Homo sapiens: one gene and its partners. The protein of the gene in region 1 interacts with the protein of each later gene in a pairwise test. Each region holds a gene or a part of one and is shown on either strand. Other genes may lie near its edges. The genes, in order: XRN2, CDKN2AIP, CRY2 and CDKN2AIPNL.

Evidence for each region.
Region 2: the proteins of XRN2 (region 1) and CDKN2AIP interact in binary tests that used the Homo sapiens proteins (3 or more experiments, as listed by UniProt).
Region 3: the proteins of XRN2 (region 1) and CRY2 interact in binary tests that used the Homo sapiens proteins (3 or more experiments, as listed by UniProt).
Region 4: the proteins of XRN2 (region 1) and CDKN2AIPNL interact in binary tests that used the Homo sapiens proteins (3 or more experiments, as listed by UniProt).

The regions. Positions count from the first base shown.
Region 1 is NC_000020.11:21,299,331-21,306,348, forward strand, and holds the start of XRN2 (5'-3' exoribonuclease 2), read left to right. Parts: upstream 1-4,000; 5' UTR 4,001-4,068; coding exon 4,069-4,143; intron 4,144-4,167; exon of another isoform or gene 4,168-4,208; coding exon of another isoform or gene 4,209-4,517; intron 4,518-7,018. UniProt on the Homo sapiens protein: Possesses 5'->3' exoribonuclease activity. May promote the termination of transcription by RNA polymerase II.
Region 2 is NC_000004.12:183,439,722-183,447,639, reverse strand, and holds the start of CDKN2AIP (CDKN2A-interacting protein), read right to left. Parts: upstream 3,005-7,918; 5' UTR 2,843-3,004; coding exon 2,571-2,842; intron 2,106-2,570; coding exon 1,975-2,105; intron 1,553-1,974; coding exon 213-1,552; 3' UTR 1-212. UniProt on the Homo sapiens protein: Regulates DNA damage response in a dose-dependent manner through a number of signaling pathways involved in cell proliferation, apoptosis and senescence.
Region 3 is NC_000011.10:45,857,462-45,864,482, forward strand, and holds part of CRY2 (cryptochrome-2), read left to right. Parts: intron 1-1,269; coding exon 1,270-1,412; intron 1,413-3,386; coding exon 3,387-3,571; intron 3,572-4,598; coding exon 4,599-4,687; intron 4,688-7,021. UniProt on the Homo sapiens protein: Transcriptional repressor which forms a core component of the circadian clock.
Region 4 is NC_000005.10:134,408,866-134,416,785, forward strand, and holds the start of CDKN2AIPNL (CDKN2AIP N-terminal-like protein), read right to left. Parts: upstream 3,017-7,920; 5' UTR 2,990-3,016; coding exon 2,751-2,989; intron 1,138-2,750; coding exon 1,038-1,137; intron 1-1,037.

The DNA of each region.
Region 1 (7,018 bases):
GTCTTTCCATATGCCCCCATTCCAACTTTCAGGATCCAATTCGTTCCCAATCAATGCCCTCACTTTAGAAGTAGACAACCTGCAAAGTCAAAAATTCAATCTGCACTTTAATTCAGCCACTTACAGGATGTGATTCGGAGTTGATTTTTAACAATCTTGGCTCTGCAGCTATAGGAGATAAGGGTCTCTTTCAGGGCAGAAATAGAAAGTTTCAGGTCACTTATGTTATACTTGAGCTGGGAATTTGAATCCCTGAGCTCATCCTTTTCTTTTCCCACTTTGTCCAGCAACATTAGGGGCAACCAATCTCATTATACTTGTTATTTTGGCAAATATGTTATAAAGTATCATACGCATGGTCACCCAGATCCTGCTTCTTTTTAGTTTTGGTAATATTTTGTGTAATTCTACTACTTCATCATGCCATAGACTATCAAGTGTTTTATTTACTACTGGAAAGTCATTCCTGTTTTTAATCTAATCAGACTAGAGAACCACTTCCAGAAACCTCAGAACCAATTACAAAAATGCATCCCTAAGATTCCGTTCCGCTTGAACCACTTCTAGTACCAGAATCTGTAGCTGTCAGCGTTCTCTAGAGACATGGAATCAACATGTGGGCATATACAAAGACATTTATTATAAGGATTTGGCTCACGTAACTATACAGACTGGCTAATCCAAATCTGCAGTGTAGGCCAGCAGATTCAGGACTCAGGAGGCAGATTACATCTCAAGGCAGTTGGCTAGAGAATTCCCTCTTGCTTGGGGGCCAGACTTTTTGTTCTATTCAGGCCTTCAACTGATGAAATGAGGTCCACTCACATTATGGAGGGCAATCTGCTTTACTCTACTGATTAAAAATGTTTATCTCAACCCAAAATGGCCACAATTACTGTTTTAAATACATCAGGTTATTCACAATGAATTTTGTAAGGATAAAGAAGGAAAGGAATCACTTGGTAGAAGGACCAATAGTAGGCAAAAAAAAACTGAGAATTTTTTTCTATGATAATTACAATGTTAATGGGGCTTAAAAATGAATTGATGAATATTTAAAAACATCCTAGTTTCCACATATTATATATTTTTCATATTGTTTTTCACATTAATGTAATCCAGATACTAGCTGTGGCCTTCCTCTCTCCCTTTGAGATCTGGGCAAAAATGTTTCAAAACCTCTGGGTTCTCTGCCTGTATAAGTCCAAAGTCTGGTTCAGTATTTCTGCTAATTTATTTTCTTTTTTTTTTTTTTTTTTTTTTTAGATAGCTTCTCGCTCTGTCACCCAGGCTGTAGCACAGTGGTGCAATCATAGCTCACTGCAGCCTTAAACTCTTGGGCTCAAGTGATCCTCCTGTCTTAGTCTCCCCATTTGCTAGGATTACAGATGTGAACCACCACACCTGGCCTCCCTGCTAATTTCCAACACTAATAAATTCTCACCTCTTCTGCTTCTAGAGGTCTGCTATGTTGCCCACCCCGTGGTGGTTCCAAACCACAGTGACCCCAACTGGAGACTTTTTATTTGATTTCTACAAGAAAAACCCATACCAAGCCTGAGTCTGACAGGCTTTACTGGACACATTGGGCCAGGGAAAGTGTCACAATACTTAGTCCATATCCTCCTGCCGCCTTTCAAGTTTCTTCTCTCTTTTACCCACTCCTTCTCTGAGTGCCAAAACTCCAATTTTAGTACTTCTATGCAAACCAATTTCACCACCCAGGTGAATTAGCTTGCACTCCCCAAATTTTGTTACTGGACTCTTTCCTTTGTAAGGGATAAGAATTTAGCCCAAGCCAGCTTAGGGCAAAAGGAAACTTTTGGCTGGGAGTGGTGGCTCACACCTGGAATCCCAGCACTTTGGGAGGCCAAGGCGGGCGGATCACAAGGTCAAGAGATTGAGACCATCCTGGCCAACATGGTAAAACCCCATCTCTACTAAAAATACAAAAATTAGCCGGGCGTGGTGGCGCACATTGGTAGTCCCGGCTACTTGGGAGGCTGAGGCAGGAGAATCGCTTGAACCTGGGAGGTGGAGGTTGCAGTGAACCGAGATGGTGCCACTGCACTCCAGCCTGGCAACAGAGTGAGACTCTGTCTTAAAAAAAAAAAAAAAAAAAAATTTGGCTCACAGAATCAAAGGACAGACTTAATCAAACTGCAGGAAGAGAGGGATTTAACTGGAACCAGGGAATTAACCCTGCTTCTCTCATTGCCTACTGGCAACAAGTCCCAATTCTTATCTTTTAGCGTTCACGCACTGGAAAGATGCAGTCTTAAATTTCTTATGGTTCAAAGCTCAAAAATGCTGGTAAGGCTGGGTGCAGTGGCTCACACCTGTAATCCCAGCACTCTGGAAGGCCGAGGTGGGCAGATCACCTGAGGTTAGGAGTTCGAGACCAGCCTGGCCAACATGGTGAAACCCTGTCTCAACTAAAAACACAAAAATCAGCGGGGTGTCATGGCAGGCGCCTCTAATCCCAGCTACTCGGGAGGCTGAGGCAGGAGAATCGCTTGAACCCGGGAGGTGGAGGTTGCAGTGAGCCTGGATCTTGCCACTGCACTCCAGCCTGGATGACTGAGACTCCGTCTGAAAAAACAAAAACAAAACAATAAACCCTCCCAACCCGCCAAAATGCTGGTTAAGGATTCTAAATGGCTCAACTTGGCCAGCTGTCTATCCCTGAACTGCCTATGGTGTACATGTTCCTATAACAGCACCTCCCAGGGAAACCAGAGGGGCTGCTTCCAGGTAAAAGGAGGAATTTCACCATAGACATAATACTTTGGAATAGTTTTGGCTATCCTTAAGTAAAACACGGGATGACTATTTCTCTAATTTCCACACTAGTAGTTTAAACAAAGTAGTCATCAGACCACAGAGGAGGGGGCAATAAATACTGCCTGTGAGGTAACTCGGCGAAATACTTTCACAGAGGCCTCATGAGGTGAGCATTTAGCATCGTGTGTGATGTGTGTCAAACCAAGAGGGGATTCAGGGAGACTTCCAGGCTTGAGCAAACGGACAAATATACCTCCTCTTCCAGACCTCTCCTTTCATATGGAAAAAATTCGTTTGGGACCACCAGAAAACAAAAGATAAAAGTATCGTGTTAGAACAAGGATGGATTAAAAATGACCTTTGCTTGAACTGAAACAGAAGCTATGTGCATAAGTGACTTAACTCCTCTGTAACTTGGCTTTCTTATCATTTACACGAGGGTGCTAACAGTACCCTCACAAGGTTCAAGTGAAGATTACATAGGACAATCCCTTAGTCAATGTCTTGGTACACTGTAAAGGCTCAGTAAATGCTGGAAAATCATATTAGCAACTATTTTATACCCGTAATTGTAGCTGGAAGATTGTATTGGATGCTAAATACCGGCTAGATTCCATTCGGTAACTATCATAATTATTTATTTGCATAACAATCAAATTATTGGTGCAAAGCAGCCATTATTACTGTAAAATGCTTTAAAATGCTCCTTTTGATAGTCCAGGTACGTACTGCAGCACAAAACTAGGAGAAACCAGGAAATGGAAGTAACGAGTAAGTTTGGATGCTTCGATTCTACCCTAGATTGAGACGGGTGAGCATAGAGGCAAAAAAAGACATTTTCTTCCAAACAAGAGGTGACCAAACGGGCAAGGGAGACCTCCTCCCGGGCATGCAGAGCGCAGCGATTCTGTGCCCAGGGAGCCGGAGGGCTGGGGCTGGGAGATCCCGGCGGAGCCCCGGCAGAGCAGTCGCCCGTGAGCCCCCGCAACTCAGACGCGCTCGGCCTCGCGCTCCGGGGCTGGGACCACCGAGGGCGAGCTGCAGCCTTCGCCACCCGGTCCGCCGCCGGACTCCGCCTCCCACAAACAGCCCGGCAAGGCCCTTTTCCGCCGCTCCCTCATCCAGCGAAGCCTCCTTCCCAGCTTCCCCGGCGGCGGCGCCGTGACGTCACTTCCGTTCTCCAGCGCGCACGTGGGAGGAAGTGCTGGTGCCCTCTGCCGCTGCTCCCGTCTCTTTGGTTACGCTCGTCAGCCGGTCGGCCGCCGCCTCCAGCCGTGTGCCGCTATGGGAGTCCCGGCGTTCTTCCGCTGGCTCAGCCGCAAGTACCCGTCCATCATAGTCAACTGCGTGGAAGAGAAGGTGAGGAGGCGCCAGGCGGCCGCCACACTCGAGCCCGGGCCCCCGGCACGTCTAGGCCGCGGCCCATGGGCTCCGCCGCCTGCCCCCGGGGAGCCTTGCCGGAGCTCGCGCCCTGCTGCCAGCCTCGCGAGCAGTCGCAGCCCCACACGCGATGGGACGCGGGCTGTGGGATTCAGCACCCCGGGGGCGAGGAATTCAGGACCCTCGGCGGGGCAAGGGCCTATAGGGTTCCGAACTCGCAGGAGGGTCGCTCCTCCCCTACTCGCTTTTTCCCGGCACCGGAAGGCCCCGCCCACTGCTTTGTTTCCTCTCCAGACCGCGCATTTTGGGTCTCGGAAGAGGTTCAGAGGCTGTTGTTGAGCAATGCATGCCAGGTCAGCTGAGCTAGCGGGTTATGGATGCACGGATTCGGAGGCCAGCTTTTTGACAACCTTGTAAAGGAATCCCTGGCGGCGACCTTTTCGTTGTTTACCAATTGTGCCGGAAAGGTTTTCTCCTAGTGTTCAGGACCATTTGTTGTTCTGGTTAGATTGGACGCTGAAAGCAGTATGTCAGGTCCAGGATGAGCGCTATAGAATTCTGAGAAGTTACCCTTCTCTGTGTGCCCTGACTACTGAACGGGGTGGGTGCTTGTTGAAAATTTCAAGATTACTGGATGTACTTGAGCAGTACAATTTTTGTTGTTAGTTAATACGTAAGTAGATTTTTGGCCATTATTGAGTTTTGTTTTTATTGTTTTCGTCATTCCATGCGGATTCGATTTTGTGCTCTTAATTAGAATTTCTGGATTGGAAACGTTCAGAGGCACATCACGCGTACCTCACTCCTTAGTTTTTGAAGGCAGTGCTTGCCTGTCACTGTGAACTTATTTCTGCTTTTTTTTTTTTTTTTAACTTTCTTGGCTTCTATCCAAGGAGGAACCAAAAGCCTTGTCTTAGTGACATTCCCACTATTTCTTGTTTTTTTCAAAAAGCAACTGCTAAATTGAATACTTGTTTCCTTTGTAAAATTTTAATCGAACTTTATTGAACTTTACTTGCACGTGGGTTAAACAAAAAGCAACAGTTCTTGCTCTACCCCTTCTCATCCCATTTCTCCACCTTTAACTGTTTTGGTTCTGTCTCTAAGTATCATACTTATACGTTATCACTTTTAGATCTGTTGAATTCTAGCTGGAATAGGAGAGGATTTAGTCACCTATTCAGCCCTCCCTCTATACTCTTAATGGAGTAAATCACTAGATATATATTTTTATTGGTAAGCTTTATAACTAAGTAATTTGCCTTTTTCATTCCATCGCCTGTGTAACGTATCCCTTGACTCAATGCTTTCTAAGGTCGATCTTAGCTTTTCTTCCCTTTCACCTCAAGTTTGTCAGCTGTACTTTTGCGTTGTGGGCATCCAAAATTAAATGATCAGGGCTTTGACTATACAGATTTAAAATGCTGAAAAATCAGATAGGATAGTTGACTATTGACACTGTGTAGATTCAGGTTATGTACTGTGATTTTGTTTTTTGTGCTGCTTTTGTCTTTTTCCCTGGGGCTGTCTTTCTTTTTCCACTTTACATCTTGCCGCGCCCGGACTCTATTTTACCAGGTAGTCTATCAAGAGTCATCTTTCTTCTTGAATAGTCCTTCTTGGGGTCTTATTTATTTTTGTTGCTGTCACACCTGGCTATTCTGTAGGCTTGCTGGAAAGCTGCATCTGGGATTTTATTATTATTATTGCTATCATATCTTTCTTCAGTGGGAGGTACTGTTTTCTGGATCATCATCTTACTTCATTTGTTTATTTATTTAGAGACGGAGTCTCGCTATGTCTCTTAGGCTGGAGTACGGTGGCATGATCTCGGCTCACTACAACCTCTGGCCTCCTGGGTTCAAGCCATTCTTCTGCCACAGCGTCCAGAGCAGCTAGGACTACAGGTGTGCGCCGCCACGCCCAGCTGATTTTTTTTTAGTAGAGACGGAGTTTTGCCATGTTGGTCAGGCTGGTCTCGAACTCCTGACCTCAGGTGATCCGCCTGCCTCAGCCTCCACAGTGCTGAGACTACAGGCATGAGCCACCATACGTGGCCTTTTTTTTTTTTTTTTTTTTTTTGGATTTTTAGTAGAGACGGGGTTTTGCCATGTTGGCTATGCTGGTCTCTGTCCTGACCACACGTGATCCGCCTCCCTGGGCCTCCCTTGTGCTAGGATTACAGGTGTGAGCCACGGCGCCCGGCCCATCTTTCTTCCTTTAAATCGTTTTCTTAGTTTTTATTCTTAATTCTTTTTTTTTTTTTTTTGAGACGGAGCCTCGCTCTGTCTCCCAGGCTGGAGTGCAGTGGCTCAATCAATCTCGGCTCACTGCAAGCTCCGCCTTCGGGGTTCACGCCATTCTCCTGCCTCAGCCTCCTAAGTAGCTGGGACTACAGGCGCCCGCCACCACGCCTGGCTAATTTTTTTGTACTTTTAGTAGAGACGGGGTTTCACCGTGTTAGCCAGGATGGTCTCGATCTCCTGACCTTCTGATCCGCCTGCCTTGGCCTCCTTATTCTTAATTCTTAAGAAATGCTGTGTGGGATGTGAGATTTCCGAGTCATTGTAGGACCCAAAATAGCTCCATTCTACCCTTATACACGTGAATGATCATTAGCTAGGCATGGAATTCGAGGTGTTTTTTTTTTCTTCTTCTTTGAGACGGAGTCTAGCTCTGTCACCCAGGCAGGAGTGCAGTGGTGTGATATCGGCTCACTGCAGCCTCCACTTCCCGGGTTCAAGCCGTTCTCCTGCCTCAGCCTCCCGAGTAGCTGGGACTACAGGCGCGCCACCACGCCCGGCTAATTTTTGTAGTTTTAGTAGAGACGGAGTTTCACCATGTTGGCCAAGCT
Region 2 (7,918 bases), on another chromosome or scaffold:
CTAATATGCTGCTAATGCATACCTTTTAATGTGTACTGTCATTCATAAATTATTTACAACTGCTACTGTGTGAAGAGAACTAGAATGTAAATTTTCTGCAAAACTGGAAAAAAAGCAATACAAAATTTGTGAAAGCCTGTGTTTTATACTATACAAAAGTCAGTTTTTCTCTTCAAATACCAGATATTGTATGCAGTGATATTTTGGACACATTATAGTAATTCTTGAGGATGTTTTAGTGCTGGAGGTAAGTTTACAGGCCTCGATTCTTCATCAAGGAGTACTAGATCTTCTATTTCACTGCCTCTGTATTTCCTTTTACATATTTTTACCACCACCTTTTTCTTGAGAAATAACTTCAATGCTTCTCTTGATGCAACTGCTTTTGCATTTTCTTTGCTTTTTCCACAGCCAGTGCCCAAATACACAGACTTGCACCTCAATTCACAAACAATACTTTCTTGAGAGCTCTTATTTTGAGGCAGATCTGCCAATTCTTTTAGTGGGACAAAAAATACATCCAGTGTTGCTTTCAGAGCCTCAATAGCTGCATTTAGGAGCTCTCCATGATTCACATTGGGACTAAAGCCACCAACAGCTACCAACTTCCATGCCACCGTTTTATATAGTCTATTGAAAAAAGGTTGCTTCTGTTTCACATCTTCATTGGTTAACTTGCAAGAGAATTTGACAGAACTCTCACTTGACTGTGAAGTACTTTTAGAAGGCAACTGTGAGGTGCTAGTCTGAGAACTACTCTTAGAAGCCAACTGGGACACACTTGCTAAGGAAGTGCTTTTGGAAACCAGAGATCCACTGGTCTGGGAGCTGCTCTTGGAAGCTAGTAGTGATGCAGCTACCTGGGAAGTGCTCTTGGAAGTTAGCAGCGATGTATTTGTTGAAGAGCTGCTCTTGGGAGTCAGTAAGGATGTGCCTGATGAGGAACTGTTTTTAGCAACTGATGATGAAACACTTGCCTCTGAACTAGTTTTGGAAGTTAACCCACTTGAAGCTGTCTCTGAACTAGGTTTGGAAGACAATAGTGGCAATTCTACCTCTGAGCTTCCTGAGGAGCCCAACAAGGGCACCTCGATCTCTGAGCTGCTTTGAGAAGCTGAGGCTGAAGAGCCTTCCAAAGCACTCTTTTTAGGTGATCCACTTTGTTGTCTAGAATCAGTGGATTGGGTCATGTGACTATTCACACTGGATTTCAGCAAGGAAACAAATGATGCAGAACCGTGTTTATCTGGAGCTTCTGCTTCAGAAGCTTTCCCAGATCCTGCCGTTGTTACCTGAGAGGAAACGCTGCTGCTGCTTTGGCTGGAAACAGATCGATCTCCATCACTTGTAGAGCTATTCTGACTGGAGATGCCAGAGCTCCGAGCTGAGTTCCCACTCTCTGATTTGATGGCCGACCCTATACACGTTGAACTGTTTTCCTGCTGAGCTGATGCACGTTCTGTCTTGGCAGAGGTTTTTGCGTGATCTTGCTCAACTGCAGAACTGTTTTTTCCTTCTATAACTCGTTTTTTGGATGGCTCTTCTACCCCTTCTAAAAAGAAGAAAAACATAGATATGTGACTAAGAATACCTCGTACAAAACGGGTGATGAGACAAATACACATTAAAATAAAGGCACAAAGTGAAAACATTTCAAGACTAATCGTTTCTTTAAAAAGTGTGGAGTCATTAATTTCTTAAAACAGTGTTGAATAACATCATGAATGTCTAATATTAAAAAAATAACAGCATCAGACAACAGTGGACACTTCAAAATCTAAAGCAGTCAAAGCAAACTATCAAATTCAAAGCCTAAAGACACAGATATATACTTTAGGTTTAACATTCCAACTTTATTACTTATTAATAACATAAAAATTCTGGCTTGTTAAAAAAATTAGTAACAATAATTCCTAATTATATCAAACTTATGCTCTAAACTCCTATGTATGTTCACATCTATGATCTGCTAACCATTGCTACTCGATATCCCTCTTTTCTTCACCTTGGCAACCAGTTCATCTCTTGTTGTATAGGTTGGAGCATCTGTCACTTTGATGCCTTCAGCCATACTAAGTATTTTATCCATAACTTTTTGAGGGTATCTGAAAAAGAAGGAAAAGTCATTTTTAAAAAGTGTTTTTTCTAAGGTCCTACTTGTGCAAAAAACAGGCCACAGGGACTGCATTTCCTGGCTGCAATCAAGAAAGTGAACCAACCGCCAAGAACTGTTTCCTGGAACCCCATAAACAAGTGCCCCAGGGTCTGGGAGGCAGGGCACCTCCTCACTAATCTTAAATCTCGCACCCGTCCCCAAGAGCGTTGTTCCCTAACACAAGCAACCCTACCAGCAGCTGCGCCCACACCACCGGGCACACAGACGTCCGGGAATCATGTCGGCTCCTCGCAGGGACGCCCTTCTCCCCCTTAGAGGGCAGCCGGGCCGGCGGATTCCCGCGCTTCACAACTTCCCCTCCCCGCCGAGGCCGGTCCCGCGGAGGGCGCCGGGCCCCGGTCTGCAGGTGGCACACAAAACGAGGCGTGCTGGTTAGGGACGCTGCCTCACTCACCGGCACCCGAGGAAGACGTGGTTCGCCCAGGCCATGGAAAAGGAGATGAGCTGCTGCAGCTGCCGGTTTCGGGTCCCGCTCTCGGCGTCGGCAGCTTCATCCGTGCTAGCGGAGGCAGCGCCGCCAGCGGGGGCCAGGTCCCCGGCGTTGCGAAGCAAAAAATCCCGGCGGTGGCGCCAGTGTTTGTCAGTCTCGCCGTCGCAGCGCAGCGCCTCCACCCAGGCTGCCACCCGCGGGTTCTGGCTCAGGTACTCCGACACCTCCTGCGCCATGTTGGGCCTGCAGGCCGCGAACACAGCTGCACCGGGAGACAGGCAGGACTAGCGGGGCGAGCGGCCCTGTCACTGCGGCCTGCACCCGCGGCCCTCCAGATAACGCCCCTCCGCAGGCCTAAAGACCAAACAACAGCGCCCAGAGCCGCCGAACCGCCCACTTCCGCCCACCGCCGGCTTCTTCCCTTTTATAACCTCGCCGCCGCCGCGCGCCCTCGCGTTCTTCCGGCGCGAGCCGGCGCTCCCAAGACGCTTTGCGGCGCCGGGGCCGCTGCGACGCTGCGTCCCCGTGAGGCCACGGAGGGCACCCCGGGGGTGAGGTGGGCGGGCGTCGGGCGTCTCCCGCCCCACGAGGGCGGACTGCAAGTCGAGCTGGCCTGGGACGACCGAGTCTCGGCGGAACCCCGGGCGTTCTGTCCTCGCTTTGTGACGCCGCGCGCTCCTGCCGTCCTCCTCCCCCGCCGGGTCAGCTGCGGCGCCGGGAGCAGAGGCGAGAGGGGCAGGGCCCGGGCAAGGGAGGCAGCCGGGCGCGGCGGCCAAAGTCCGCTAGGGGGGCGTCCCGGGGGACCTTGAGCCGCCCGCAGCCGCGGGGCCTGTGGTCTCCGCCCTGAGACGCCTGTGTGTGAGCGGGGCCAAAACAAACAAAAGCCGGCCTCCATGTTAGAGTGTTGGGAGCTGCGTCTCGCGCTGCTTTCAGTGTGCCCGAGCGAAGCGTTCCGAGGCCGTCGGGGTCTCCGCGCCTTCAGGAGGGCGGGAGTGCCAGTCCCCTTACATAGCAGCAGTAGACAGTAAGGTCACACGAGGACCTGGCTCCGTGTTGCCGTGAGGCTTGCAGCCTTCGAAGCTGGCCCTGGCCCCGCAGCGGTAGGGCTTGTTCCCGCAGTTTATTAGGTCTCTAGTTAATCCAGGCATTGCCTTCCTGTTCTGGTCAGTAGGAAAACAACACCCCGACAACGCTCTGTCTCTAGAATTTCCTAAAATCAACAGCTTTACCACCAACCGGCAGATGTCCGGAGGTGGAGTGGAAATGTACCTATTTATCTATAGGGCCCCAAACCTCTCTCCCTGTTAGAGCTGTTTTTTCCTTCTATATATTTTTTTCCACTTTACATTTCCCACAGTTACGTACTCTAACTGCTGGCTGGCTTATTGTTACGTTTCCCATTCCAGGTATACATGCACTGTAAGATAAATACGTTAAATGATATAAATTATGAAATTTTTCTTTCAATAAATGTAGACTTTGATGTAAAAATGCATGAATCAGAATAAGCAAGCAAAAAAAGGTCACTTTAGGTAAGATCAGATAAGGTTAACTGTGTAATTTATGTGCATGCTGGAACAAAATACAGCTATTGTATGAAAACAATATTGCCCATTTTCCTGCCATACCAAAAGAAACTACATAAAAACGGAGGCACAAAGAAATTTTGAAGCTTTGTGATTTTGCTTCTAGTTTGCTGTTCTTTCCTCCTTTTCACAGATAATTGCTGAAAATCTAGAGGGGGTGGACGGATTGCAGAAATCTGGCTATTTAAAAGGTGGAGAAATTACGATTTCTCCTTTCATGAATTCTTTGGCAAGGGGACCATGGCAAGTAAAAGAAGCTATGATCGCATACCTAGATTATATATGTGCATTTTAAATCAAGAATGTTCTCACGGCCAGGTGCAGTGGCTCACGCCTGTAATCCCAGCACCTTGGGAGGCCGAGGCGGACGAATCATGAGGTCAGGAGTTCGAGACCAGCCTGGCCAATGTAGTGAAACCCCATCTCTACTAAAAATACAAAAGTTAGCCAAGTGTGGTGGCACGTGCCTGTAGTCCCAGCTACTCTGTAGGCCGAGGCGGGAGAATCGCTTGAACTCAGGAGGCAGAGGTTGCAGTGAGCCGAGACCAAGCCATTGCACTCCAGCCTGGGTGACAGAGTGAGACTTCATCTCAAAAAATAATAATAATAATGTTCTCACTTTTTTTCTTGTTGCCCTGTAGTCTTCTTCCCACTCATGGGCTTCATTGCCTTGAAAGGAGAACAAGTAGAGCCTGAATTTCAAACAATTTTTTTAATTATAATAAAAGCGATAGAGTCTGAAAGATGGAGTACTTGTGCAAAAACCAGGTGCTTGGAATAAAAGATACATGCATTTTTCTTTTTTGATTCTTAAAAAGTTGACTTTGCATATAAAGATTCAAAGACTATGAACCACAAGTAGCTGGGACTGCAGGCGGGTACCACGACGACAGGCTAATTTTTTATTTTTTTGTAGAAACAAGGTTTCACTGTTGTCCAGGCTGGTTTTGAACTCCTAATATCAAGCAATTCTTCTGCCTCGGCCTCTCAAAGTGCTGGGATTATAGGCATGAGTCGCTGTGCCCGGCCTCATTTTTTTTTAAAGACCCTCCCACCTACAGAGACAAATTCCTCTCTAAGCTGGGGGAGACGTTCTGAGAGAAAAGGTGAGAGGAGAATTTAGGTGATAACTAGGAAAGTCTATGGGAGTAGGGAATAAGATGCAGGGTGGGAAGTGTTGGCTGTTAGAAATTGCTAGGTAGATTTTGGGTCTAAGAGCAGAAGGACTTGGCTCTGCCCGAGTTTCTGAGAGAAGACAGCCCAATCGTGCCCTGAGCCTGTATGCGTTGGCCTTTAGAAATGAACATAGAAAGGGCCTTTTATAGCTTTGATAACCAACTATACAACTCCCTCCTCTGCTCCTAACACACGTGTGTATATATATATACATATGTGTGTGTGTATATATACATAACACACACACACGCATTTACGCACATATATCTCACAGGGCCTAGAGGAGATCCAAAAGGTTCCCAAGAAAGAGTTGAATGGTGAAGTGCCTACCAAGCACCAGGGTCCAAGGTGAATGAGGCTAGGGGTGGTCAGCTTGTCAGCAAAGGGAGATGCAGCTAGTTTTCAGCAAGTCATCAGACCAGTGCCCGTCAGGCCGCATCAATAGGAGAGGACCCTCAACCTCTCCTGAAATGATCAGTGTGCATTGCTTGTGCTGGTAGATCAAGCAGTTATACTCCCAGCAGAGCCCACAGGGAAGAAAGCACAAGACAATGCTAGGATGATAACCAAGCCTCACCCCACCACTGCCCTCACTAGAAATCTACTCAGAGGAGAAAAGGGAGAGAATTCTAATGAATTGAGAAAGATCCACTATCATCCCAAATTGAGTTTCAAACAAGTGACTGAGTTCACAGGATTAAATTTTCTGCTGTAAGTGGAAGCCCATTCACTGAAACTGGTTCTGTAGCATATCTCTCTGAAGACATCCAATAAAAATTCCAGCGGCAAGCTGGCTTTTCTGCAGATGGCTTTCCCATGGAGCAACATGAAGGGATTGCCCCTGTTCCTGGATGTGACTGTGGAAGCAAGAAAGCCTTTGGCAGGAAGGTCTGCATGTGGAGAGGCTTGTGAGGAGCAAATACTCCAGTTATGGCCAAGGTTATGACTTGATGTGAGAAATACTTCATGGTGAGGGGAAATATTTTATGCTAATGATGTGTGAGGACACAAATCTGCCAAATTACAGTGATAAGGTGGGATGTTCTGAAAAAGTAAGAGAATGTTTTAAGAGTGATCCCCTCTGTTAGAAGCTTTGAGAAATCAAGTAGGATGAAGATAGGTAGTAACAGTCTGATTACGGACTGGAGCCACCTGTGAGCTTGGCAAAAGCCGTTTTTACTGCAGTGATGAAGACTCCATATCAGAGTGAGTTCAGGAGTCGGAAATGGAGATATTTGGCTGTAAAGGGGAGAAGATAGAGGAAGCTGGACAGGGTCATGGGGTCAAGGTGGCTTCAATTTCAGATGGGAGTAGCCTGAGCATGTTGCCCACTGCTTGAAGGCAACTCACAGAAAAGGAGAGTTTGAGGATCTGAAGAAAAAGAGGGTAATTAGCAATTTCTGCAGACATAGGTGTGGCTGGGATCCACACACAGGTGGAGAGATTAACCTTAGGTGGGCAGACACTTCCTCTGTTTTAAAAGAAGACGTTTGTAAGTTTGGAGCTGAGACGTTGACATGGAGGCCATCTGATGGTGCAGAGAATGCTCGCAATGGATATTTTAGAGGGCAGAAGAGCAGGCTGCCTAGATGAACATAGTCTTTTTGGCCAATTTAAAATTACAGGCTGGGCGTGGTGGCTCACACCTGTAATCCTAACACTTTGGGAGGCCAAGGTGGGCAGATTACTTGAGCCCAGGGGTTCAAGGCCAGCCTAGTCTACATGGCAAGACCCTGTCTCTACAAAAAATACAAAACATAGTTGGGTGTGTTGGTACATACCTCTAGTTCCAGCTACTCAAGAGGCTAAGGTGGGAGGATCACTTGAGCCCACGAGGTCGAGGTTGCAGTGAGTTGTGATCGCACCGCTGCACTCCAGCCTGGGCGATAAAGGGAGACTGTCTCAAAAATTAAAATAAAATAAAAATATAATGTGTGCACACAAAAATGAAACATCTAAGTAGAAAAAAAGAGGCATAAATGAAAGCAAACAATCTCCCTCACTCAACCTGGTCCCACTCTGTGGACATCAGCATTCATGTCATTTCTATCTTGATTTCTTTGGGTGATTATTTTCATAACTCCAAATTAAATGCTTATACTTCCATTTCTTATTTTTTCAACTTTAAGCAGTACTTATTTCACTCCTGAATGTTGAAGCTGAGAAATCCATATCATTTACACTACCCCTTTTTTCTCCTAATTTTTGTTATCTTTTATTGTTTTCCCGTTGGCTACCTGTCATAAATTCAAATATTATACTTAATCATCATTTTTAAATCTATCAACTTCAGGCAGGTAGCTCTTGATTTCCACATCATGTAAGAAAATTCTGGAGAGACCATATTACAGATATTTAGATATTCCCAAAATATGCGTTCAGGATAAAATCTAATCTCTAGTGATAAATCGACAGCAGATGGATAATTCTGAAGTTTTCCTACTTACCTGCAGGATTTATGCCATTGTTTTTACATTAAGCCTTAACATTAATAAATGTTAATAAATTTGTTTGCTGCTGTGAGGATTAAGTAGATTGCGAAGTTATATC
Region 3 (7,021 bases), on another chromosome or scaffold:
CTTATATCCCAGAGATATAGCTAGGTCATCCATTCAGTCATGTAATGTATTTTTATTGAGCTTCTGCTAGGTACTAGGCCCCATACTAGGTATAAGGGTAATGATGATGAGTGAGACAACATGGTTTCTGCTCTGAGAGTTCACACTAATAGGGGAAACAGGCAAGTGTATCATTGTCATATAATACATGCTGCAGTGGAAAAAAGACAAGGTGCAGAAGAATTATATTGAAGGAGGAGGTCAAGAAGGCTTCTTGGAGAAAATGTAATTTAATAATATTGTTATTCACAGGTTACAATGAGTATTCAGTGATGTAACCTATATGAACTATAAGCATGGTACCTGGCATATAGCAAGGGCTCAATCAATGTTTAATGCTGATATCCTCGAATGAGGGATAACTGGCCCTGCTAAGGACCCAGTCCCCGGGCAGGGCTGAGTCAGGACCAGACCAGCCTGTGCATGGCTAGGACATTTGCCCCTGTGGTTCAGAGCTTTCAGAGACTATGACCAGAGACTTTGGAGAATGTGTTTTTCTTCTTGCAAGTTGCATGCTCTAGGGCTTTCTGTGGGTTGACTGTACAACCATTCACTGGGCCAGCTTGCTATGAGATCTAGAAATTCCTACCAGAAATGACTAAAGGCTTAGGAAAGAACTTCCTCCTTTTCAACATGTAGCCCCTCTGGTCAGTTTCCTCTGACCTCCAGACTAAGGATCGCTTCCCCTTTCCTGACTCTCTCAGGGCTGGAACCTATTAGCTCTGTTTGCTATTGGCCTCAGGAGTGTTGCTGTGGAAACAATTAAGACACTTCACATAGCACAACTCTGCCAAGAAAACTAGGCCACAAGTCTGCAGGGCTGTGAGGAGCTCTGGGAAAAGCTTGCTGAGCAGGCAGAAGGCTGTGGTCCTGTCCCACCTGTGAGTCAGTGCCACTCTCTGGGACTGGGGGTTTCCCAGGAGCGTTGTATTTATGGCCTCCTGCTGCATTCTCCTACCTCAAGGACACAGCAAGTGCACAAGGCTGCCTACCTCTCTCCCAACTCCACTGTTGCTGTGCTGTTGGCTTCGCCACACTGCCTGCCCTCCTCAAACTTTCTGAACCTCAGCTTGTTTGCTTTCCAGATCAAATCCCTGTTCCTAGTTTTTTCTGCTGCCCATCAGATAGGTCTCTAGACTAGCTCTGTTCTCTCCCAGGAAGGAACTGAGAGTCCAGCTTCCCCCTCCTCCCCAAACACAGTGTTGAGCATAACAGATCCTCTCCCCACAGGAATGGGGAGTGACCCGCTTGACCTTTGAATATGACTCTGAACCCTTTGGGAAAGAACGGGATGCAGCCATCATGAAGATGGCCAAGGAGGCTGGTGTGGAAGTAGTGACGGAGAATTCTCATACCCTCTATGACCTGGACAGGTAAGAGATGGGGCCCAGGGATCAGGTTACCAATTGTGAGAGTTAGTAATTTGGGCCCCTGCTGAGCGGAACTCAGAGAGGTTCAGCATTAGGGCTACCTGACCCAGGAGGCATGGCATCTTCTAGAAGCTGGAGGAGAATAGGCCAGAGTCAGGACCTGTAGAACAGGTCACAAAGAGCTTTACCCCATTGAGGTGGCAGAGAGGCTTGTTAGGCCCAAAGCATGGAAGCAGTGAGGACCCACACTCAGGGTATTTACAAATCTGCTCCTAGTATGCCCGAGTCCCACCTGTGCCTCATATTCCCACTTCCATCCTGCTCAACAGCTGCCCTCTGACCTCAGTGGACCCTGTCTGTTACCCCTCCAACAGACCTCTGTTCACACAGGTCCAGTTTTTGTACCTAAGATGAGTTCCTAGGCTGGGCATGCTGGCTCATGCCTGTAATCCCAGCACTTTGAGAGGATCACATGAGTCCATGAGTTCAAGATCAGCCTGGGCAACATAGTGAGACCCCCGTCTCTACTAAAAATAAATATATTAGCCATGCATGGTGGGACATGCCTGTAGTCCCAATTACTGAAGAGGCTGAGGTTGGAGGATCACTTGAGCCCAGGGGCTTGAGGCTGCCATGAGCTGTGATCATGCCACGTCACTCCAGCCTGGGTGACAGAGCAAGATCCTGTGTCAAAAAAAAAAAAAAAAGAGTTCCCAGGTTCTATGACTATCTGGGTTTCCAGGCCATGTTGCTTGGTGGCGGGGAGGGCTCTAGAGATCCCTGCAGGGAGCTGCTAACTACAGAGGAGCCTCCTCCCCTGGTGACAGCCTCTGTGCTTTCAGAGATTCTAGGAGGAAATCCTCTCCTCCCCTTCCCTGCCATGCCAGAGCTGTCACCCTCCTGCTGCTGCTGCTGCTGTTGCTGCTGCTGCCAAGCCAGCAGCCGCCGCCGCTCCCCACCCCCACTTCCCAACCCAGTGCTGGCTGCCAAGAAGCCAGGTCACACAGCTGTGCACGTGAGCCGGGCCCTCAGGAGGAGAGGCTGGGTGTGGAGATCCTCCTCCTGCTGCGTGCCAGAGGAGAGGGAGGCATAGCAGAGGCAGCAGCCGACCATATATCTCCACTAACGTGGGGAGAGCAAACTGAGAAATGAACTCACCCAGCCAGATGGGCCTTGCGTAAGCTACTTCTTGGCCAAGAAGAGCCCCGGGAATGTGGCTCCATACCATCCCAATTCATCCTTATATAAACAGCCTCCGTTCTCTTCTTCGCCCTCTGATACTCCTTCCTTCTTGCATGAGTGCAGTTATGTTTTCCCTGGTCATGAAAAATACTTTGTAAACTACAAGACTCTCTTTAAGTATCAGTTGTGGCTATGAACTCTAGCTCCAGTCTCTGAATTTGGGAGGATAAGCTGTCTTCCACCTCTCTGTTCAATGTTCTAATAAATGGAGGCTAAGAAGGGGATGATTTTCCAAGAAAGGAACATGTCTGCTATTCCTTATGATGTTAGAGTTAAAAAAAAAAAAAAAAAAAACATGTCTTCAGCTCTTATCAAAGAACTTTCTCCAGGGCTTACATGGGTGGTAGAGGCCTATGGGGATTCCCTTAGCTTGGACAGATAGGCCAAGTGCCAAGCAGGCTAGTAGGGATTTTTCTGTGATTAGAGATTTTGTCAGTCTCTGTCTTTAGGCGGCTCTGCGTCAACACCAGGGAGCCCGGAATTGAGTCCCAGCTCTGGCCCTGCCTTGCTCCATTACTGAGGCACCTGCTTCAGCTCTCTGGGCTTTATTTTCCCTCTCGGTAAAATGGAGATGCGGCCTCCCTTGCCCCCTCCTTTCCACTCAGGCATGGGACCTGTGAGTGGATGAGGAAAGCCACCCTCAAAGCCTTCAGAGTCTGGGTTCTTTTTTGGGTGGGCAGGGACCCACATCACAGGGCCATGTGGGTAACACTAGCTATGCTTTGGGCTCCCCAGGATCATTGAGCTGAATGGGCAGAAGCCACCCCTTACATACAAGCGCTTTCAGGCCATCATCAGCCGCATGGAGCTGCCCAAGAAGCCAGTGGGCTTGGTGACCAGCCAGCAGATGGAGAGCTGCAGGGCCGAGATCCAGGAGAACCACGACGAGACCTACGGCGTGCCCTCCCTGGAGGAGCTGGGTGCGTACTTCCTGCCCAGAGCCACTTGTGCTGGTGCCTGCTTTTGTGTAAAGAAATTCTTTGTGAAAGTAATGCATGTCATTATAGAAAGGTTAGAAAGCACAGGAAAACAAAAATGGAAATGGCAGTCACTATTACTCCACCACCCAGAGGTAACCACAATTAATTTTAAACTGTGTCCTTCTAGTATTTGTTCTGTTCATACTCATACATGTAATCTTCTGTTTCTGGTTCTAGATCATGCCTCTATTTTTGTACTAACCTCTCGCAGACAATACAGGCACTGCCTGGTGCTGGTGTCCATGGGCTTCTCAGTAACAAGATAGCTAGTATTGCTTCTGTTGAAAGCAGGGAATCTGTCAGCCTCTCAGATTACTAACTACACTCTTTCACCCCTCCCTCTTTCTTACCTTTTTTTTTTCTTTTTTAGACGGAGTCTGGCTCTGTTGCCCAGTCTGGAGTGCAGTGGCACAGTCTTGGCTCACTGCAACCTCCACCTCCCGGGTTCAAGCAATTCTGCTGCCCCAGCCTCCTGAGTAGCTGGGACTACAGGCGCCTGCCATCACGCCCAGCTAATATTTGTATTTTTAGTAGAGACGGGGTTTCACCATGTTGGCCAGGCTGGTCTTGAACTGGTGACCTCGAGTGATCCACCCACATCGGCCTCCCAAAGTGCTGGGATTACAGACGTGAGCCACACCTCCAGTCTTTTGATCTGAACAAAGCTATTAGCCTTTTTCACCTGAAAACCACAGTTGTTGCCAGCTAATCTGAAAAGGCAGGAGGTCCGGGATTGTTGTCATCTACCTGGAGCGATGAGGGTGCAGGGGAAAGCAGAGAAAATAGTGACTGTGGGAAGAGAACCAAGTTGACCTAGAAAACGCTAAAACTTTAAGGATTATCTAACCCCCAGTAGCACCGAGACACTGTGGTTCAATTCTCATAAAGTTCAAATAACAGAACAGCCGTGCCGGGCTATCACTGAAATGGTCAAACCTCCTGTCTTGTGACCTTTCCTTCTCTTCAGGGTTCCCCACTGAAGGACTTGGTCCAGCTGTCTGGCAGGGAGGAGAGACAGAAGCTCTGGCCCGCCTGGATAAGCACTTGGAACGGAAGGTATGGGCCGTTTCTGAGACACAGAGCTGCAGATACTGATATCCACACAGCAGGAGATACAGGTCATGTCCATGTCCTTTAGTCCCTCTTAGCTCACATTGTTTGGAAAATGAAAAATCCTCCTATCCTCCTGATGGCCATAACAACAGCAACACTAACAGCAACTACCATTTAGAGAGTACTTACCATGTGCTGGTCACTAGGCTCAGCATTTCTGGGTTAAGCACCTGCTGGCATTTCTTTTAATCTTTCCAATAGCCTGCAAGGTAGGTACTAAGCTGTTCATTCTACAGATTACAAAATTGAGGCTTAGAGAGGTTAAGTAACTTGCCTGAGGTCACAAAGTTAGTAATTACAGGTTGAGTATCCCTTATCCAAAGTGCTTGGGACCAAAAGTGTTTCAGATTTTAGATTCTTGAATTAGGAATGCTCACCTTATAACACAGTAAGACCTTGTTCTATGTTATTCTAAAGCTATGTCGGATTGCTTTTCTTTCATCTGTGGGCAGGTTCCCCCTACTAAGAGGATATCTGGTTAGTAAAATCTATAAGATTATTTTGTGTTGATGTGTCTCCGCACCTTTTTGCTGGAACTCTTTCAGCGTGTTGATTTCCATATGCTTGGACACAGAGCAAATGGCCCACCTCCCAGTGCAGTGAGAACTGGGGAGGAAAGAAGCCCAGGCCTCAGAGGCACAGTGTCACAAAGTCCTCACTCCCCTGCAGCTAGAGGAGCAGAGAAAGTTCTCATGTCCGAGAACAGTCAGCTCCTAGTTTCCTGCCCCCTGCAGCTGGTTTATAAAATGTCAGCTTTTTCTATGCCTGCTAAGATGGCTAGGTATTTTGCCTAGCAGCCAGATGATGACGATAATAGAACAAGGAGGCCAAGGCAAATCTACTTGGGAAGAATGTTCTCCAGCCCTGGAGGTGTCCAGTCAACAGTGAAGGCCCACAGCCTCGATGTTTCTACCTGGTTGTTTCCTTCAGCCTGGGACGAAAGCAAGCCCCACAGACTTAAAGGATGAGACTAGCTATCTCTGTCCACATCAAAAGGTTCACCTAGAGATTCTTGGGCCCAGTTTGAAGACAAAGGTTGGGCCAAGGGGCAGAAGGGTGGAGATGACAAATGGGATTGCAGGAGTAGAGTAAGGCTTAAACCTGTAAAGAGCTATCATCTATGGTTAGTTTTTATCAGCTGGAGAACATTTTGTAGAAGGATGTCCCTTAGGTCACCGACAGGAGCTCCTTTTCCACATACCCCCAGAGAGCGGGCCCCTTCTCTCAAGGGCCCTTACGCCATGGACATATTCAGACTCAGTGGTGCCCAGAGGAAATACTGTGTCCTGCACATCTGGGAGAACAAATGGTGCTAGAGATACAGGAGTTGAACCTGATTTCAGGATGTTTATTTTAGCTTCCTTCAGTTCTCCAAATCTGAAGGGAGCACCTACTCATGCCAGTTTAGCAATACTAGATAGAAGAAGGTATGTGCCTCTTTTCCGAAAGCACCAGGAAAAGTCCCAAGGCATGTTTTCATTGTCCTGGTTTGGGTCATGTGACTGTCCCTGACTCAATGACTGTGGCCAGGTATAGGAGGTGGTGCTTTCCCTGGCCAGACTTGCATCATGAGTCCGCTCCCAGAACTGGAAGGTAGGTTTAGCTCTGCTTTATCCACTCGGACTAGGATCAGGGAAGGCTGATTCTCCACAGGAATATGAGATGCTGTTACTGAAAAGCAGAGGAAGCTACATGATCTTTACCACTGGGTTACTCAATAGTAGATGAGGGCAAGCATCTCTCTATAAAAGTATTCTGATTATTAAATTAAAAAGGAATGGTGGAATTTGAATACCACCATTTTGTAACCCTCAATAATGATGCATTATGTATTGGTGACTGCTGACACCATAGAAGGAGGCAAGCATTATGTGCCCCCTGTAGTCTTGTCAAAGGGATCAAACCTGAGTCCAGTCCAGTTTCTGGTACTAGCCACCAATGTGCAGGTGATACACAGGACACAGCACTTGTTGAACTGCACCATGAGTATACAGTCAGCAAAATCCAGACTGTGGGAATCTTGGCAAGTCAGATGGCCTGGATTCTTTCCCAGAACAATGGAAAGGAAAAGAAAAAAATGGCATAAAATGTGCAGATTAAAAGAAAATTAAATAACATATTAAAGTTTTTTTTAAGGCCAGGCACAGTGACTCACACCTGTAATCTTAGCACTTTGGGAGGCCAAGGCAGGAGGATCTCTTGAACCTAGGAGTTCAAAACCAGCCTGGGCAACATGACAAGCCCTCATCTCTAAATAAAAACAAATTAGCCGGGTGT
Region 4 (7,920 bases), on another chromosome or scaffold:
AAACCATCCTGAAAATCAAGTGGGGTGTACTATTTGGGACTGAAATACTTTATGAGCAACTGAGAATCTGATTAGTTCCTTGACACCCATATGGAAGAGGACCTCTATATGTGCCCCACCTCCCAAGACAAGACCTAAATGTGGAGGAATGGGCTTACCTATGTTTCTAAGGGCAGACCTAAAAAGGGGCCAGCAGCTTTTTACTCTACTGCTTCAGTCGATTTTATAAGTATTTTCTGAGTACCTTCTCTGGGGTATAAGTATACTAGGTTTGGGAGTTGTAAAGACTAAATAGAACTTTAGACACCATCTGTAAGGTCACAACTGCTTTAAAAGAGCCCTGGATAAAGTGCCAAAGGAACTTCAGAAGATAAGCGAGCAATTAATTCTGCTGCCTGAGCAGACAAATGTGAAACAAGCATGTTTTGGAGGTGATTCTGAAAAGTATTAATAGCTGGGATGCCCAGCTCCATATTCTGAGGTTCTTTCTGCCACATTCTGTAGCCCCAGCTCCAGTGTCCAGATTCAAGACTCTAGGCAAGACTCACTGTAAAAAGCCCATCGCCTGAGATCAGACCCCAAAGGGTAGAGAACAGCTATGCCATCGACATTGCTCCAGGCACGTTCTTATCAGCAAATCACAGAAGCCAAACAAGTCAGGTCGGCACTCACACCGGCACTCACACCTGGGGTAAGGATGAGTCTTACCAATGAGATTTTTTAACAAGTAGGAAACTTAAGTATTCTAGCCAACATCTTTTTAAACATCAAGCAAAAATCTCAAAACAATGTTCCTAAACAACCGGAAGAGGTTAAGCTTATGTGTTACCTCATCAACAATGCATAATTTACCACAGTGAGTTGTCAACTATTTATGAAAAGGCTTATACCAATTATGGGGAAATAAAAATGAAAGGGTATAGGTCTTTGGGGCAGTAAAGAGCATTCAAAAACAATATACTCTAATATAGTGTCATCAAGGCAGGGACTGTTAACTCTACACCATTTCATCACATGCACTTGGAAATCCTATTTACCTTTTTCATTAATTCACTTCTGGTAGTAAATTGTGGCAGGTCTTCCACTTCAATCCCATCGGCCATTTCCATCACCTTGTCTAAAAGGTCTTTATTGTAACTGCACAATAAAAAGTAGTAAGGTAAAAACCTTGGAACAATTGTCACTGTGGATTAATAAGAAACTGCAGGTTGCTCAACTATAAAATCAGCTCTCAGAGAACTGACCTGATACTGCAGGGCAAACCTATACATGTTCCCCACAAGGTTTTGAGATGGAGTCTTGCTCTGTCCCCCAGGTTGGAGTGCAGTGGTGTGATCTCGGCTCACTGCAACCTCCACCTCCCAGGTTCAAGCAATTCTCCTGCCTCAGCCTCCCGAGTAGCTGGGATTACAGGCGTGTGCCACCACGCCTGGCTAATTTTTTATTTTTAGTAGAGACAGGGTTTCACCATGTTGGCCAGGCTGGTCTCCAACTCCTGACCTCAAGTGATCCTCCTCCCAAAGTGCTAGGATTACTGGCGTGAGACACCGTGCCTGGCCCTGTGAACACTTCTTGCTTGTAGATACAGAAGTGGACTTCAGAAATACCAGTACAGCAGATGTTTCAAGATTTAGAAGAACAGAGGCACTGTACATCCAGCAACAGATATTCTCAGATACAGGATGAGGACCAAAATATTTTTATTTTTTAAATACATGGAATGTTAGTCTAACAAAAACATTATTTATTTCCCCAATTCTCTGACATTTGCCTAACCATGGAAAACCAGGATTTCCCAGGAGCACCTAGAAGGCAGGGAAAAGGGACGGGTGCCTCTGGCATTGCTTCCCTACGTACTGTTCTAATAAACCCCAATATGTGAAGCAAAACCAAGTGGCTTAGGCCTGCAGGGGCCAAATGACCAGAGTCAGGCAGCCATAATAGGTATAGAAACCAAGATCAAACCAAGTCACCCTATTTTCCTAACACAATTTCAGGAAAATCGAAGCTCTCTAATAGGGAGTCTCAAGATTTGCCACCTTCCTCATGGAGGGGTGAAAGGAATGCCTTATCAGGCACTTCAAAAGCGGGCCTTTGTCCTTTTGGTGCTGCAGCCAGGATGAAGTGGGCTTTGAGACCTTCACAAAAAGGCATCGGCCATTTTCATAAGAGGGAAAGCAGAGAGGTGAAGCTGGTTCCTACTTAGGACCCCGTGGGCTGTGGAGTGAGGAGAAAAAGCCATAGGATACAGATTACATCCTCTCATTAGTGATTAAAATCCATCAATCCTGCCAGAAGCTGCATGGCCCCAGGTATATCACTTCTCTCCCTAAGCTTTTTCATCTGTAAAATGGGGATCTCCGTTTCTCTCTCTGCACGTTTGCCATGTAGGTGACAGGGGCTAACGGACTTCGAATGCATACTGCAAAGGTGATGGTTTGAGCTAATAATAATAGTAATACAAATAACAATAGCAACCTTTGAACCCGCCATGTATTTAGCTCTTCACCCTTTAATTATTACAGCCATCATAACCACCCTTTTACCAGAAGAGAAAACTGAGGCTCAAAGATAAGGATCTTTCCAAGGGGCCTCCAGGGTGGGAATCAGTCTTCGGGCCGACCAATGCGGATGGAGGTTGGGCCCGGGTTCAGTCTGGGGCAGAGGTTCGGGTCAGGGGTGAGCCCTGGGAGAGGCCTTGAGGGTCGGAAGATAGGGGACAGGATCAGCCGGCCGGCAGGGGTCCGCACCTGCAGCCTAGGAAGAGATGGTTGGCCCAGACCATGGAGAGGGAGAGCAGCTGGTCCAGGCGGCCACTGCCGTCGGGCGGGTCGCGGTAGTCGGGCAGGTGGCGCAGGATGAATTCCATGCGGGCCTTCCATTGCTTCTCGCTCTCTGAGTAGGAGCGGAACTGCTCCGCGAAGTCGGCCGCCTGCCGCACCCCCGAAACCAGCTCCTCCACTGCGGCAGCCGCCTCGCCACCGACCATGGTGCCCGCCGCAGCCGAGGACCGGATAGCCCGCCGCCTTCCCGACGCGCACTGCGCCACCGCCTGCCGGCCAGAGGGGCCCCATCAGCGCACGACTGCTCCAGAAGACCAACCTGGAGCGCCCTCGCCCGGAGCGGCGGCCTGCGGGGGCACAGAGCGGCTCCTGGCTCCTCAGACCGCCGCAGCCCGTGGCTCCTGCCCTGGGTCTACCCAGGGCTACAAGGGTCTTTTGCGGTCGACCCTGCGGGGAACCGGTGGGAAAACTGAGGTCCCTAAACACAGATTCGGAGCGCCCTCTTCCAGTTGGCAGCTGGATGCCAGCCAGAGCTATGCTGTGCCCTTGCCCTGAGAGTTTCCCGGGCACCGCCTCATCCTGAGCGACATCAGGGGGCCCGGGTCACGGTCGACTTCCAGGGGTCTCCACAGCCACGAAGGTTGGGGCCCGCCTTCCTGGAGCGAGTAATCCATCCATCCCGTGAATACTTGCCAGGCACATTGCTAGGTGCTGGAGAGGCAATGAGAGCACATTCGGAGCCCTGCTCGCCTGAACTTTACCATGGAGTGGAGGAGTGGACATTAGTGACATAATTGCTCAAGTAAATGGAGAATTTCAGCGTTGACAAGTATTAGTAAAGAGAAGTTCAGCGTGCTACAACCATGAATAAGCAAGGGACCCAATCTAGTCTTGGGGTCAGGGAAGTGATCCTGGAGAAGTGAAGAATGAGCAGTTTTCTGAGTAAAGGGGAGTCGGTCAAAGCAAGAGAGAGCATGGCCTGGTAAGAGAATTGCAAGATAGGGGGTAGGAGGGGTTGGGGGGCGGGGCAGGGCAGGTAGAGAATGGAGAAGATGAAGTTGCAGAGGTCAGCAAGGCCAGTAGGCCAGGCAGGGATCCTGGCTAGATCCCAAGAATGGGGAGCCGCTGAAGGATTTTAACCAGAACAGTGACACCTGTGTTTACAAAAGATGCTGGAAGGAGCCAGAAACAATGTGTCCAGAGGAAATGAGCAAGTTTGGACTTGGTTTTAAATAGAGACAGGGTTTCGCCATGTTGCCCAGGCTGGTCTCGAACTCCTGAGCTCAAGTGATCCGTCTCCCTCAGCCTCCCAAAATGCTGGGATTACAGGTATGAGCCATCGTAACTGGCTGGACCTGAAAGTTTTTATTTAGCTGGCATGACTCTGCTGTCTGTTCGAGTCTCAGGTAGCAGACACACTGAGAGAAAAAAGAGCTTCCTTTTAAGTGGTGAATTTTCCATCCCTGGAAGCATTCAACTACAGTAACTGGGTGTTGGGGCTCAGAAACCAACACCCCAAAATGTATTTTGACATGCTGAACTGATGAAGAAGCCTCAAGGTCTCTGTGACCTCCGCCACCAACACACACTCCTGTCTGTCAATTCTTTGTTCCTCCCAAAGCACAAGATGAAGTTGTTCCCTTATCTGCCTAAATTTAGTCCAGAACGCCAAAGGAAACAATTATCTCTGGTTCCCTCCCTGAGTTTTCATTAAGTGAATTTGTTTTGCAGGAGGAAAGACTGAAGTATGGTCAACACACTAGGACAGACTTTTGTCACAAACCCTTGTCTCCTCTGCAGGCCCAACAGACTTTGTCCCAGGCCATTGCATGTTCTTCAAGCCCATTGAATTACCCTAAAAATCATTTACTACCCATCTAAAATATTCACACTCTGGATGATGGGGTAATCACTCTGTGATTAACTATGCACATTAATAAACTTGTATGTCTTTTCTCTTTTTTTTTTTTTTTTGAGAGCAAATTTCACTCTTTTTGCCCAGGCTGGAGTGCAATGGTGTGATCTCTGCTCACCGCAACTTCTGCCTCCCAGGTTCAAGTGATTCTCCTGCCTCAGCCTCCTGAGTAGCTGGGATTACAGGCACCTGACATCACGCCCGGCTAATTTTGTATCTTTAGTAGAAACGGGGTTTCACCATGTTGACCAGGCTGGTCTCGAACCCCTGATCTCAGGTGGTCCAAGCTCCTCGGCCTCCCAAAATGATGGGATTATAGGCGTGAGCCACAGTGCCTGGCTGCCTTTTCTCCTCTTAATCTGCCTTTTGTCAATTGATTTTCACTAACCTTCAGAGAGCAAAGGAAAGTTTTCCCTTCACACAAAGAGTCACTTGAGCCTTCACCAGCTTTGAGAGATTATTGACCTAATAGGCTTCCCCATTGCCCCCAGTCAAATGTGAGGTTGGGGTACAGAGGTGAGCCTAGAATCCACGATCTAGGGCTCCAGTGCAGGTCCTGTATTGTGAGTGTGGCCTGTGGGGAGAGCTGATTACATCCTGTCTGCTGCTTCTGCAGCTTCTTTTGGGGCATCAGGGTCCCCAGAAATCAGAGACTCAACAAAGCATGGAAATACAGGGCAGTCCGCATAGAATGAACCTGAAGACCCAGCACCAAGCTCAGTGATATGGCATAATGGTTAACAACAGGGAGGCATGATATTCATGCAAATGTGGGCAAGCAAAGTGTCAACAGGCCTGTGAGACCAAAGACAGAGTTAGCTACTCCCAGCAATCAGGAATTGGTGCACAGACCTAAAAGTCCCAAAAGTGAGTGCAGATCCCACGTCCTGAGAGGCTCGTTAAAATGACAGACTCCCCCAGGCTCACCATTGGATGTTCAGATTCAAGGCCCCAGGTAATTCTGCTTCCACCTGCCGCTGACCAAACTTAGAAAAACTCAAAGTTAGACTGGGAGTGGTGGCTCATGCCTGCAATCCCAGCACTTTGGGAGGCCGAGGCGGGCAGATCACGAGGTCAGGAGATCGAGACCATCCTGGCTAACACGGTGAAACCCCGTCTCTACTAAAAATACAAAAAATAACCAGGCGTGGTGGTGGGCACCTGTAATCCCAGCTGCTTGGGAGGCTGAGGCAGGAGAATGGCGTGAACCCAGGAGGCAGAGGTTGCAGTGAGCTGAGATCGCACCAATGCACTCCAGCCTGGGTGACAGAGTGAGACTCCGTCTCAAAAAAAGAAAAACTCAAAGTTGTTGAGGGTTCTCTGAGCTAAAGTCTTGGTCACCTGATTGTATAGTACAGAGGTTAGCTCAGAAAGTCTTGGTCACCTGATTGTATAGTACAGAGGTTAGCTCAGAAATAGGAACCCAGGCTCTGCAAATAGCAGCTGCAGTTACACAGCCAATCCTGCCTATGGGGTGTGAAAAAGCTAAAGGTCATGCAGCAACTACCTTATTTAGCATATCTGTGACAATTATGGAGCATATGCATATACATAACATACGGACGAACATATTCAGACATGCATACAATTGTAAACCCAAAAGTGCACAAATAGGTATTCTTTTTTTTTTTTTTAATACAGAATCTTGCTCTGCCATACAGGCTGGAGTGCAGTGCCACATCATGGCTGACTGCAGCCTTGACCTCCCAGGTTCAAGAAATCCTCCCACCTCAGCCTCCATGAGTAGCTGGGACTACAGGTGTGTGCCACAATGCCTGGCTAATTTTTAAGTTTTTCATAGAGTTGGGATCTTGCTATGTTATCCAGGCTGGTCTCAAACTCCCGGGCTCAAGTGATCCTCTTGCCTCAGCCTCCCAAGGTGCTAGGATTACAGGCATGAGCCACTACACCTGGCCAGGTATTCTTTCTTTAAAAAAAAATTGTGATGTTGTTAACATTATGCTTTCAAAATGCTAAGCAGTATAAAATATTGGCCAGGCACAGTGGCTCACAGGCCTGTAATCCCAGCACTTTGGGAGGCTGAGGCAGGCGGATCACCTGAGGTCAGGAGTTCGAGACCAGCTTGGCCAACATAGCGAAACCCTGTCTCTACTAAAAATACAAAATTAGCCAGGTGTGGTAGCACGTACCTGTAATCCCAGCTACTCAGGAGGCTGAGGCAGAAGAATCGCTTGAACCTGAGAGGCAGAGGTTCCAGTGAGCTGAGATCGCACGATTGCACTGTAGCCTGGGCAACAGAGCAAGACTGTCTCAAAAAAAAAAATTGTTAATGGCCACACACAGTGAGACCCTCATCTCTACAAACAATTACAAAATTAGCTGGGCATGGTGGTATACACCTATAGTTCCAGCTGCTTGGGAGGCTGAAACAGGATGATCGGTTGAGCCCAGGAGTTCAAAGCTGCAGTGAGCTATAGTAGCAACACTGCATTTCTGCCTGGGAGACAGAGAAAGACCTTGTCTCAAAAACAAACAAACAAAAAAGTTAATAATTAACACTTCACAGAACAATGTGGCAAGTCCAGTTATTGACCAGTTTGTTGTTTCTAACTTTTTTTCATGATTCAGACTTTTTTTTTTGAGACAGATTCTCACTCTGTTGCCCAGGCTGTAGTGCAGTGGCGTGATCTCAGCTCACTGCAACCTCCGCCTCCCAGGTTCAAGCGATTCCCGTGCCTCAGCATTCCAAGTAGCTGGGACTACAGGGACTTGCCAGCACGCCTGGCTAATTTTTGTATTTTTAGTAGAGACGGGGGTTTCACCGTGTTAGCCAGACTGGTCTCGAATTCCTGACCTCGGGTGATCTTCCCGCCTCAGCCTCCCAAAGTGCTGGGATTATAGGTGTGAGCCACCGTGCCCAGCTGTGTTTAACTTTTTGAACAAACTGTTTTCCACAGTGTCTGAACTACTCTCCACAGTGCTACTGGTAATGCATGAGGGTTCCAACTTCCTCACATTCTTGCCAACACTTAGTATTTTCCCTTTTTTAATTTTTAAATTATAGCCATCCTAGGGGGTACAAAGTGATACCTCATTGTTGTTTTGATTTGCATTTTTCTAATAAGTAATGATCCTGAGCATCTTTCTTGTGCTTATTGGCCGTGTGTATATCTTTTTGGGGACATGTCTATTCAGATCGCTTGCCCCCTTTTTTTCCTCTTTCTTTTTTCCCTTTGTTAGAGTTAATTTTTTGTTTATGAA